3 linked regions of the Homo sapiens genome follow. The protein of the gene in region 3 purifies or fractionates together with the protein of the main gene of each other region. This does not show direct contact. Each region holds a gene or a part of one and is shown on either strand. Other genes may lie near its edges.

Region 1 (3,652 bases), on a different chromosome or scaffold from region 3:
TTTCGTTCCCACAGTAGCCACTCTCTGCTGAGCCTCTCATGGTCTTTTATTGCATGTTCATGACCAAGGTCTTAGTCAAGGATGAAAAGGAGTGCTCACATTAACCCCTGAGCACTCCCCAGCCTACATGGCCTCCTTCTCTCCTATACTCTGCTCTGCAAATTCCAGCCACTTTGGCAGAACCAAACTCCACTCTCTACCTCCTTAGCTTAGCAAGACCACTGTACTCTGCTTGGGCTCCACATTACCGTGCAGTGGTCTAATAAATACCACAGTAGAAAGCTGGGGTGACAGTGGGATTCACATTATTGTAATTAGCCAGTGCCTGAAAATAACTAACTTTTGTCCAGTTTTATAACTGCAATCATGTAGAAGGGCAGCTGAGTACCAGTTACTCAGCTGTGGCCAGAAGCAGAATTCAATTATATGTATTTTTAAGTTTTCTTTTTTCTATATTAACTGCTTCCTCACAAGTTGTTTTTTCTGTTTGAGTCTGATGCCTGTAGGTTCTTTTATTTTGGTTATTATTCAGAATGTGTTCATACGAGTGATTTCAAATAGCATTTAATAATTCTGAGTTCTTTTTAAAAAAGTGCTGTTGGTTTTCTTTTCCTCTAAAAACATGGACTGCCATTCTGATGCTAAAGTTACCTTCATAATCGGAAGAAGGTCTTCTACTTTGTGTACCTTTTCCAGGGCTTCCCGAACTTCCAGCAATCCTTTAGGATTATTAGCTCTTAAAGAGAGACAGAGAGAGATGGCAACTGAGATTAATGCAGAATTGTAATAATTAATCATGCAATTATCTTTAATTTAAATAAATTGACCTCAATTTTGAGTAGCTAAACATTCAAAATGGTAGGCCACAAATAAACCTTCCAAATAACGGGATAGTTCAATTCTAATGAGTTTTGGACTGCAGATGAAAATTAAGGAAACAGCAGCAGATGAGAATTAAGGAAACATCTAGAAGGCAAAACAGGAAAAAGCAGAATGGATCAAAAGCCAGTGTTTGTGTGAACATGTATGGTTATGAGTTTGGTTCTTAAACTCTGATTTTCCTATTCCAGCTCTAAAATTATATGTGGATGTTTTGTGTTGTTTTTTTCCTTTCTAAAGCTGCTCAAATGAAAGTATTCTGCTAGGTTTTTCCACCGATTTTATATTTACTTGGTGATATTTAAGCATTCAGATTTTTTTTCTCCTAGTGTTCTGCTCATTGTTTTGTCTATCCCATCCTGCCTTTCAAGTGAAGGAGAGTAAGTATTAAAGCTGAAATCCCTAAAAGATAAATCCAAAGAAACATCCTGCTTTATAGAAGAAAGAGACTAGAAAAGTCACAATAGTGCACATAAAGTTAAAAACACTTCAGTTGAGGTCTGTGGATTTTGTATTAAAAAGAAAGTGATTATGAAAGCCTTTACGATTCTAAACACTGTGTAAAAATTTGATAGACCTTGTTTAGCCCGTCAACAGGCTTAGTTCTCAAGTTTCAAAAATATAACAAATATAAAACACATGAAATCAACTCATTACTAAGAAGGAGAAAATTAAAGGCTTACCCATGATAAACAAGAATTCTGTCTTTAATAAAATGAAGTATTTTCTCAAAATATTCTAGGTATCTCATGTTGATCACCTGACCCCTATAAGGCAAAAATAATAAAATTAAGAATATTTTTATAGAAGAATATGCTCAAGCCAACATCTAATTTCAAAGTTAATTTAAAAAAATAAGAAACTATGAGAATAATGTAGAAAAAAAAAGTCTGGGAAATTCGCTTGTTCATAGTCAATGAGTGGTGAAGCAAAGCACCGTCTTAGCAAGACTGCCTGCCAGCTCACAGGGCCTATTCTGGCATCAAACTCAGTGCCAGATCAGCCACAATGGGAAGACAAATCCCCCAGCACTAAAGTGAGGTCCAGACTTTCATATCAGCGTCCTCTGACGGATCCCATCACTTGTGGGCAGTGTGCCGTCTCCCCTCCCTCAGTTCTCCCAACAGCATTATCCAATACCCTGTCTTGCTCTCTAGCTCACTAGCAGTCTCCTTTCCTCTACCCACTCGGAATACTCTTTTCCTCACATTTCTATCCCTTCTGATCTTTTCCTTTTAAACTCACTCCCAGAACTCCATGTTCAGCCAACATGCTGAGTCACATGACACAGCCGACTGCTCCCAGGACATCGCTCCCTGGGTTCCCACCAGGCATCTCAAACCTCAAAGGTTACTGTCAAGTAAGAATTCCCTCCTGCAACCCACACTTCTCCCAGCCTCCCCACTAAACATGTCCACCTACTTTTCGTTCTGGTGCTCTCTGGCCTAATGGGACAACCACGTACCTGAGGGAAGGTGGCCTTCCTCTAGCTCCATGCCCTTCCCACTGCAGCCCACTGCCAGTGCTCCTGATTCTATCTTCTAAGAGTCTAGCTCTTCCTCTCCAACTCACTACCACACAGCTTTTGAGGCCTTTGCACTTGTCCACCTGAACAACTACACAATTTTCCAACCTCCTCCCTTACCTCCGAGGTTCCTGCCTCCTCTCCAATCTATTTTGCCATCTTCTCCCAATGTGCAAATCTGTTCCTGTTACTTCTCTGCTTATAATCCCTGAATGGCTCACCATTGTCTTCAGGGGAAAAAATTCCTTAGCTTGGACTATAAAATGATTTATGTTCTGACTTCTGCCTATCTTTCTAGCCTTAATTCCTGATACTCCCTTAATTGCAAACTCACCACCAGGCGTAATGAGTTAGTCACAGTTTCCTGACCATACCTAACTCATCCATGGGTCCAAGTTAATCACCCCACCTCTCTCTGTTTTCCATTTTTCCAAATAGCCCTGTAGCACCAGAAGGCTTTATCAGGCACCCCTTCTCCAGGTTCCCATGGCATCCTGTGCATGTGATCAGCTCACTCTTAACACACTGCATAGTAGTTGTCTGCTGGTCTGTCTGCTGTGAGCTTTCAGCAGGTGGGGCTGTATCTCCCTTCTGTATCCCCAACACACAGCACAGCACAGCACACTGGCTGATCTACGGTAGCCTTCGATTAAAGTTAGTTGCTTGAGTCTACCTATCTATGCCACAAATTATTCCATGAGAAATAGGAATATACAAGTCACAAGGTGAAAAGAAATTTGTTTTCTAGAAATTAAAAAAATAAATATACATACAAATTATATTTCCATTAAAACCCAAACTTAAAGGTGTATAGAAAAATATTTTCTTAATTCAGCTTCCTGGAACTAGAAGCATTTTAGAGGTGACACAACTACCATATCTATACATTTTATCTAAAATTAAATTCACTAAAAGATGGGCTGATAATATAGGTCCCCAAGAAACTGATATCCTTTAATATTTGTTCACCATTTATTTAGAAGGCAGCTAGGCACATAAAGAAAGAGTGAAGAAGTGAGCATTTCACCCATGTCCCCAACTAGCAGAGCCTCTGGACAAAACAGAAGTTTTCCAGCCAACCTGACTTGCCCTCCCCAGATGGCAGCTTAGTTACCAGATAGTGTTATTTATCTAAGCCCTTTGTGTGTTGGGGTGGAATGGGGAGCCGCCCACCGTGAGAGACTCCACCACGAGAGACTTGTCAAATAATTTATTTGAGCCATGTACTATCAAAAGAATATTATGGTT
Region 2 (3,652 bases), on a different chromosome or scaffold from region 3:
GTCAGCACAGAAGTCCTATCTTAGGACCTGTCAGACTGTGGCTGGCCCCGGATGGTCTGAGGTTGGCTGACCCGAGCTTTTCTCCATTCACCAGAGGGTTTAGGTGTGAGGAGAAGGGCTCTGCCTCTTCCCAGGTACAACACTGGCCATTTCTGGGCAAAATTGGACACGCTTATGTTCTCAGCACAGTGTGTTCTGGGATTCTTCTCATTTGGTCCAGGGTGCAGTTAGCATATTAGAAAAAGAATAAGCTGGACATCCCCACGAAGCCACTGGGGATTTTTTTTTTTTTTTTCCAGATAGAGTCTCACTCTGTCACCCAGGCTGGAGTGCAGTGGTGCAATCCTGGCTCACTGCAACCTCTGCCTCCCAGGTTCAAGCAATTCTCGTGCCTCAGCCTCCTGAGTAGCTGGGATTACAGGGGCCCACCACCACGCCCAGCTCATTCTTGTATTTTTAGTAGAGACGGGGTTTCACCATATCGGCCAGGCTGGTCTTGAACTCCTGACCTCAGGTGATCCACCCGCCCGGCCTCCCAAAGTGTTGGGATGACAGGCATGAGCCACCGTGCCTGGCCACTGGGGATATTTTATGTCATGTGTATTCCCTTGCCCTGGGCCTGCCCCTTCTCCTGCCTGGGAAAGAGGTATGACTCCCACAGGAGCAAAGAATCCTGGGGGCTTCCAGTTCCCTCCACCATCTCTACCATGCTGACCCATTTGGGGCTCAGCACTGAGACAGAGGCAAGACCAGCAGCTCCAACATGTAGTGTAGGCTGGCACAGAGCAAATGCCCCCGCAGCCTGCTCCCCTTGCCCATGGCTCATGTCAGTAATCAACCTACGTACCTTTCCCACTGAACCAGGACAGGGCCTCCAGGCCTCAGCACAGAACTGCAGACAGCCACCACCAGGCATTGTCAATAAGACCTCAGTTCCCCCTCCTGCCCCACTGCAGAGCAATCCATTCCATCCAAAGCAGGGTGACTGGCAGTCTCCGGCCAGGCATGGGGCAAGGGTGGGGACTGCCAGTGTTTGCTTGTGTCTAGGAGTTATGAACAAGCTGGCCACCAAAATTGGCGTCACCCTGGGTGCCCACCAGCGCTGTCCTGTGTCTTGGGTCTGTGAGTCAAAGAAAAGGTCCCTGTCCCAGGGAGTGACAGGCAGTAATTAGGCTGAGTTGGGTGGGGAGGTTTGTCTCGGCCTCCACTGTTCCCGGAAACCGCTGTTCTCCTTGGAACAGCCACTGGGAGTTGGAGTGTTTATTTGATTTCTGACTTGCTAAGCCTGTAATTTACCTGCTGGAACAGACAGAGTCCAGCTGCCCAAACCGTGTCATTAAAAGCAGATCCTGGGCCCGCCCCATCCACAGGCACAGCCTGGCAGAGTGGTTCCACCTCCCCATGGGCCCAAGGATGCGCCTCTCTGGAGTTCACGTGCTGCACCCCCAGGGAGGGGCCTGGGGAGAGCTGGTCCAGCAGCAGGGGTGGAGGCTGGGGCCACACTGCGGGACAGCAGCCCCTCCACCTGGACCAGGGAGGGCCTCCATGTGCAAGCGCAGAGGAAGAGACCCTCTCATGTACATAAAGGGTGGGCCCAGGCTGTCTGGAAGATGGTGAGTTCCCCACTAGTCTAAGGCTTCAAGCTCAGCTAGCAGAGATTGGAAGAGGCAATGGCCTGAGTGTTAGGAGACAGGTATTCTGGTTCCAACTCAGCCACTGACTTGGTGTCAGGACAAGTCCCCTTTCTTATTCACGCTTCAGTTTCTCATCTGCAACATGAGGACATAGGACTCTTTAATTCCAAAGGCTCTTCCAACCCAGAGAACCCATCTGCCCCCATGACCTTCTCCCAGAGCTTGAGACATGGCCTGAGCCCCCTGCTGCCATAGGACTTGGGGCCTATCTGCCATTGCAGGACCTGATTTAACAGCTCTCTTCTTCCAATACTGGGCAGTAGAGTTTCGGAAACTGACAAATGTGTGGTCTCTTCAGTGCCCAGTGTGTAACCTGGCATGGTTTGGGTGTGCTAGGAGTTTGTGAAATGAATGTTTTCAAGACGCAAACGCTGCTATGCCCATCAGGTGTGCACAGCAGGCCTGAGGATCATGATGAGACTCCCTTTTTATGCAGCAAAGCACAAAGTGTGACAGTCGTGGCCTTCCTGGTGGCCAGACTTCTAGCAACTTTAGCCACCCACCAAATGACATCACATACAGAAGGCCTCAGAAAGGGAGGAGGTCGTAAGGACACACAGCTGATGAAGGGTCAGTGCTCAGCTATCAAGGTCATCTTCTGGCCTGGTTGCCTCCCACAGCCCAGGATGCATTCAAGGCTGCACATCAGGAGCATAAATAAGGGTGGTCAGCTCAGGCCCACTGGCTGCAACAAGTAGCCACTGACAGGGAGTCTGGGGCCATTTGGTGCAGAACAACCCCCAACCCAGTGGCCATCTTCACAACTGCAGCACAGTGCTGGCCCTAATGCCAGGTGAGCGTGCAAAGTCCTGTTTCTTTGTCTTTACATAGGGACCGGGCGATGCGCTTTAGAGAAATTCCCTATTATTTCACAGGAAAGGAGGCTGTGAAAAGGAGAGGGCAGGTTTTGGAGCCAAGTCGACCTGGCATCAGGTCCTGGCTGCCTTTTTTTTTTTTTTTTTAAAGACATACATGGTCTTGCTTTGTCGCCCAGGCTGGAGTGCAGTGGCAGTGTCATGGCTCACTGCAGCCTCAACCTGCTGGGCTCAAGCAATCCTCCCACTTCAGCCCGAGTTGCTGGGATGACAGGCACACGCCACCATACCCAGCTAATTTTTAAATTTTTTATAGAAACCAGGTCTCACTATGTTGCCCAGGCCGGTCTTAAACTTTGCCCAGGCCAGTCTTGAACTCCTGAGCTCAAGCAATCCTCCTGCCTCAGCCTCCCAAAGTGCTAGGATTACAGGCGTGAGCCACTTACCCGGCCTCTGCCTCTTGTTAATTTGACCACATCATGTACCTGCTGTGCCCGTTCCTTCCTCCGTAGAAGAGGGTGCTGGTCCTGCCCTTTTGAGGCCTCCATGAGGGCCAAATGTGCCATGGGACACTTAGTGCCATGCCTGCGCAGACCTGTGGAATAAACAGCAATTCTGAGCAGGCTCATTTTAAAGGGACTTGCAAATTTGGGCGTTCCTTGTGTGCCTTCCTCATAAAACCCACTCCTCCCAGAATATGCTTAGAGGTGCTGCTGTATTTACCTGAGAGCTATGCTTTTCATCAAAAACCTAAACGTGATCATCTCTTGGATGAGGTGTGGCCCTGCACACTCGCCTGCTCGTGGAAGGAGTCTGGGCCAGCAGTGACCCACGCGCTAGGGTCTCTGCTGAGGAAGTGGCAGGTGTGCGGCCCTGCCCTGGCCCCGTAGTGAGTGTGGGGCCCACCTGTGCCCTCATGGGCAGCTGAAGGGGGAGCTTTCTACCCCAGGTTCCTTTCCTTACTGAAAAGTCTTGAGCAAACAGTTGCCGCTCTCCACCCCCTGCTTTTTAAAAAAAATTTTTTCTCACGTAAGAAAATGTTATCTGTGTGCTGGGGAAAATTTTGAAAATAACAAAAACCAGAATACAAACACCCATAATCAATCACAGAGATAACCACTGTTCATAATTCCTTCCAGTCTT
Region 3 (3,652 bases):
GTCATCACATCAAAAATAAGAACAGACAACATTTATTGTTTGCTTGCTATGTGCCAGGAGCTTTTCCAGATAATTTGTAGGCATTCTTTCATGTAGTCCTCTCAATAATCTTTGTACATAGATACTAAGTGGAACCTAACAGGCAGGCTGAATATTTTGCTTGAGATGACTTAGGTAGTAAGAAGAGGAGCCAGTGCAGCCCTGCCCAGGTTTTTGACCACACCGTGCAGTGCAGCCATGCCCAGGTTTCTGACTACAGCATGCAGTGCAGCCATGCCCAGGTTTTTTACTACAGCGTGTGGTGTCCTGCCATAAGGCATGCTGGAGGAATCATCTTCTTTCCCACAATGTCCCTCTGAAAATATTCTCTTTTAGCTGCCATGTGAAGACAGGTTGAAAGGATGGGGCTTATTTAAGTATATATAAAACCTGAAGAAAATGGAAAAAAGATAAAAATCTAGAAACAACTGTGAATAGAAAATGGAAGAAATGCTGACCTTGTTGAGCAAATCCCTGATGAGTTGGATTAAGGAGTGTCCCTGAAGCATAAATGAGAAAAAAAATAATCCAAATAAGAATACAGTTCTCTTTTACACAGTGAGTAGTAGAACCATTACCTCATATTGGAAGCTAAAACTGTTTGCAGCTCCAAATGAGGTGGAGAGAAATGTCCTAAGCGAAAGTGCCCTAATGAATTAAGTTAGCCCAGATCTGTCCTTCTCTCTGGGCACCACAGACAATAGACCACTCTGCTGACTTTTCATAGGTACCAGAGTAGTGCTCATGTCCAAATAAATCCTTCTCTATCATTGGCTCTCTGTATTAAGACTTTGAATATTCAAGTATAAAGAGAGGATCATGAGATGTAATCCAGAGTGCTAATCCTGTAACCATGGGCTGGTCACTTCCTATTGGTAGACCATGGCTTCCTCACTGTTAGAGCAAAGAAGAGAAAATTAATTATCTAGTGATGCTTGTGTCTAGTGATGTGTTAGTTTTTATGTTACAGTGGTCCTATTAAATTATATCACTCTAATTATGTTACTCGTACCCTTCAAAACTACCAATGTGTACCTATGATCCACAGAATAATGTCCAAATTCCCTAGCATATAATAAAGCCCTTTGCACACTGGCCTCTGTCCCTCTCTACAGCTATTTTCTACAGCACGAGCACCTCCATTCATCCAAGTTCATTTCTTCACTAGGAATTTCCAGACACATGATGCCTTTCCTCTTTTAAGAATGTCCTTCCTGTTCTTCTTTTAACCTAGTGTTCTCTTACTTGCTTTTCAACCAGCCCAAATTCTGTCTCCTCTATGAAGGTTTCCCTGCTATCTAAACAATGTTATTTGCAGTCTTCTGCTGTTCATTTGCCTCATATGGCTCTCTCTGCTATAGGTCTATAAAGCCATGTTATGATGATGTGCGTCCATGTCTACACCTGCTGATTATATTGTAAACTCCCCAAGGGCAAGGATTGTGTCTTTTTTTTTTTTTTATCTCTACAGGCCTAGTGCCTAGCTCAGAACTTGTGTTTCATAAATAGGGTTTATATAAATACTTAAGGAAAGCACTTGAGGAAATAAAGAATAATAAACAATAATGTTATATTTTCAATAAGAGTTTTCTCCACAAATGGAAAAGGTATATACCATATGTGGCTCTAGCCTCAGTCCTACTATAACAGAATAGAGTATGCCTTTCAGAGATGGCCAAAGTCATGACCTGAGAAGTTTAAGTAAAAGTGATGCAACTGGAAGCCTCACCAATAATACCCTGTCTGGATCTAGGTTGGCCCAGAAATATATTGGTTCCAATACACAGGGAGAAATGTAGCAGCTTCAGATTCCTATGTATCACCTTTGGAAATTGTTAATGAAACACCTTTTTTTAAACCTTTCTGTTTTCCCTTCTTGCTATTCTCACACAGGTCTTCAGATAATCTTTCCTCAGTATCTGCAAGAGAAGTTTGTCCAGTCGGCCTTGAGCTATATCATGTGCAATGGGGAGGGGGAGTACCTGTGCCAGAACAGCCAGTGTCGCTGCCAATGTGCCGAGGAGTTTCCGCAGTGCAACTGCCCCATCACGGACATCCAGATCATGGAGTACACGCTGGCCAACATGGCCAAGTCTTGGGCCGAAGCTTATAAGGACCTGGAGAATTCAGGTAGAGAGTCTCACTCAGTGCCACTGCATGAGTGGCCTTGAGCCAAGTCTGAAAGGGAGCTAATCTAACTGGAATTAGGACTGCTGCAAGGGAAAGTTCAGTGACCCTGACCCTTTCACTTTGGAGTGTCCAGATGCAAGTATAATAGCTGTCACAGAGCAGGCACTCAATAAATCTCAACTGAATAAAATTAATGAATAGCATAATCCAGTTTGTGGTCATATGATGTATTGTTTCTGTCGTACCCAGAAGACAGAAAGAATAAATCTGCATAGGAAGCCTCTGGAGAGGGAAGAGTCAGAGGTAGTTGTATTGATTCCTTGGGCTGTGTATGTGTGTGTGGATATTTGTGTGTGTATGTGTTTGTGTGTGCACCCACACACTTCTGTCCATCTCTATAACTAGATAAACATACCTCTATGTGTATATTTATATGTGCATATGCATAGAGATATAGATATCCAAAGAATCTACAGACTATCAAAGCTCAAAGTCTCTTTTCTGGTATCTTAGTTATTTTCTGCCTTTCATAGTTCAGAAAAATGAGTTTCAGGGGTGGAAAGACAGTCATCCAAGCTCCTAAAGTGGATGAAGTCTGAAGTAGGATCTCTACCTTCATGGACATTTGAGTTTTGTTGGAAAGCCAGGCATTAATTATGTAACCATGCCAATGATTAGGAAATGTCAAGGATACGTCTGTAAAAAGGGAGGAGTTGCTGTGAACAAACGATGTAGAGTTGGGGGTCAATGTGGTCAAGGAAGTCTACCTTAAAAAAGAACAGAAATGGAAGTATCTGACTATGGTGCAGATATGAGAAGGTGATTACAGGTAGACCAATGGGAGGCACAAAGGGCCTAGGAGAGAGATGACCATGATGTGGGTTAAGGAGATGGTACAAGTTGTAAAAACTGGAAATGTGCAGATATGCCAACATATTTAGAAGGAAAAAATGGCAGAGCTTGATGTTAGATTGTCTACAAGAGTTGAAGAGAAAAGGGATATTGAGGTGATACTCATAAACCTCCTTTAGATAGGCATGTTAGACAACTTGATAGATGTTGATATCTTTCATTGAGCTAGAACACCCTGAAAGATTTGGAAAGAAGACCATGTGCTCACTTTTCTATAGGATAAGCTTGAGAATCCTTGAGACTTCCAAGAAGAGATGCCAAGCAGGTACTTAACATATAATATGTGCTCAAGTACCTGTTAAATAAATGGACTCATGCAAAAAAGCATTCCTGTCTTTACAACAACATTATATTTCTTAAATCTGTTATAATAGCCACCTTAAAGGAAGTACTAACATTTCTGAATTACAGAGAAGGGAACACCTCCTCTATAATCCTCCTGCAAGACCCAGTGTTTTCCCTAGGGTTGCACAGTTAGTAAATGGCAGGATTGGTAATGGAATTCCTGATTCCAAATCTAGTGCTCACAGCAGATTTGGTAACTTAATTTTACTTTGTCCCCCAGGCCTGA

What was found.
Region 1: the proteins of BRINP1 (region 3) and TTC13 purify together in Homo sapiens (affinity purification with mass spectrometry; one large-scale study listed by BioGRID and IntAct). This does not show direct contact.
Region 2: the proteins of BRINP1 (region 3) and BMP8A purify together in Homo sapiens (affinity purification with mass spectrometry; one large-scale study listed by BioGRID and IntAct). This does not show direct contact.

What each region holds. Positions count from the first base shown.
Region 1 is NC_000001.11:230,919,859-230,923,510, forward strand, and holds part of TTC13 (tetratricopeptide repeat protein 13 isoform a precursor), read right to left. Parts: intron 1,647-3,652; coding exon 1,563-1,646; intron 737-1,562; coding exon 652-736; intron 1-651.
Region 2 is NC_000001.11:39,526,061-39,529,712, forward strand, and holds part of BMP8A (bone morphogenetic protein 8A preproprotein), read left to right. Parts: 3' UTR 1-3,652. UniProt on the Homo sapiens protein: Induces cartilage and bone formation. May be the osteoinductive factor responsible for the phenomenon of epithelial osteogenesis. Plays a role in calcium regulation and bone homeostasis.
Region 3 is NC_000009.12:119,212,436-119,216,087, reverse strand, and holds part of BRINP1 (BMP/retinoic acid-inducible neural-specific protein 1 precursor), read left to right. Parts: intron 1-1,932; coding exon 1,933-2,169; intron 2,170-3,652. UniProt on the Homo sapiens protein: Plays a role in neurogenesis and brain development. May suppress cell cycle progression in postmitotic neurons by inhibiting G1/S transition.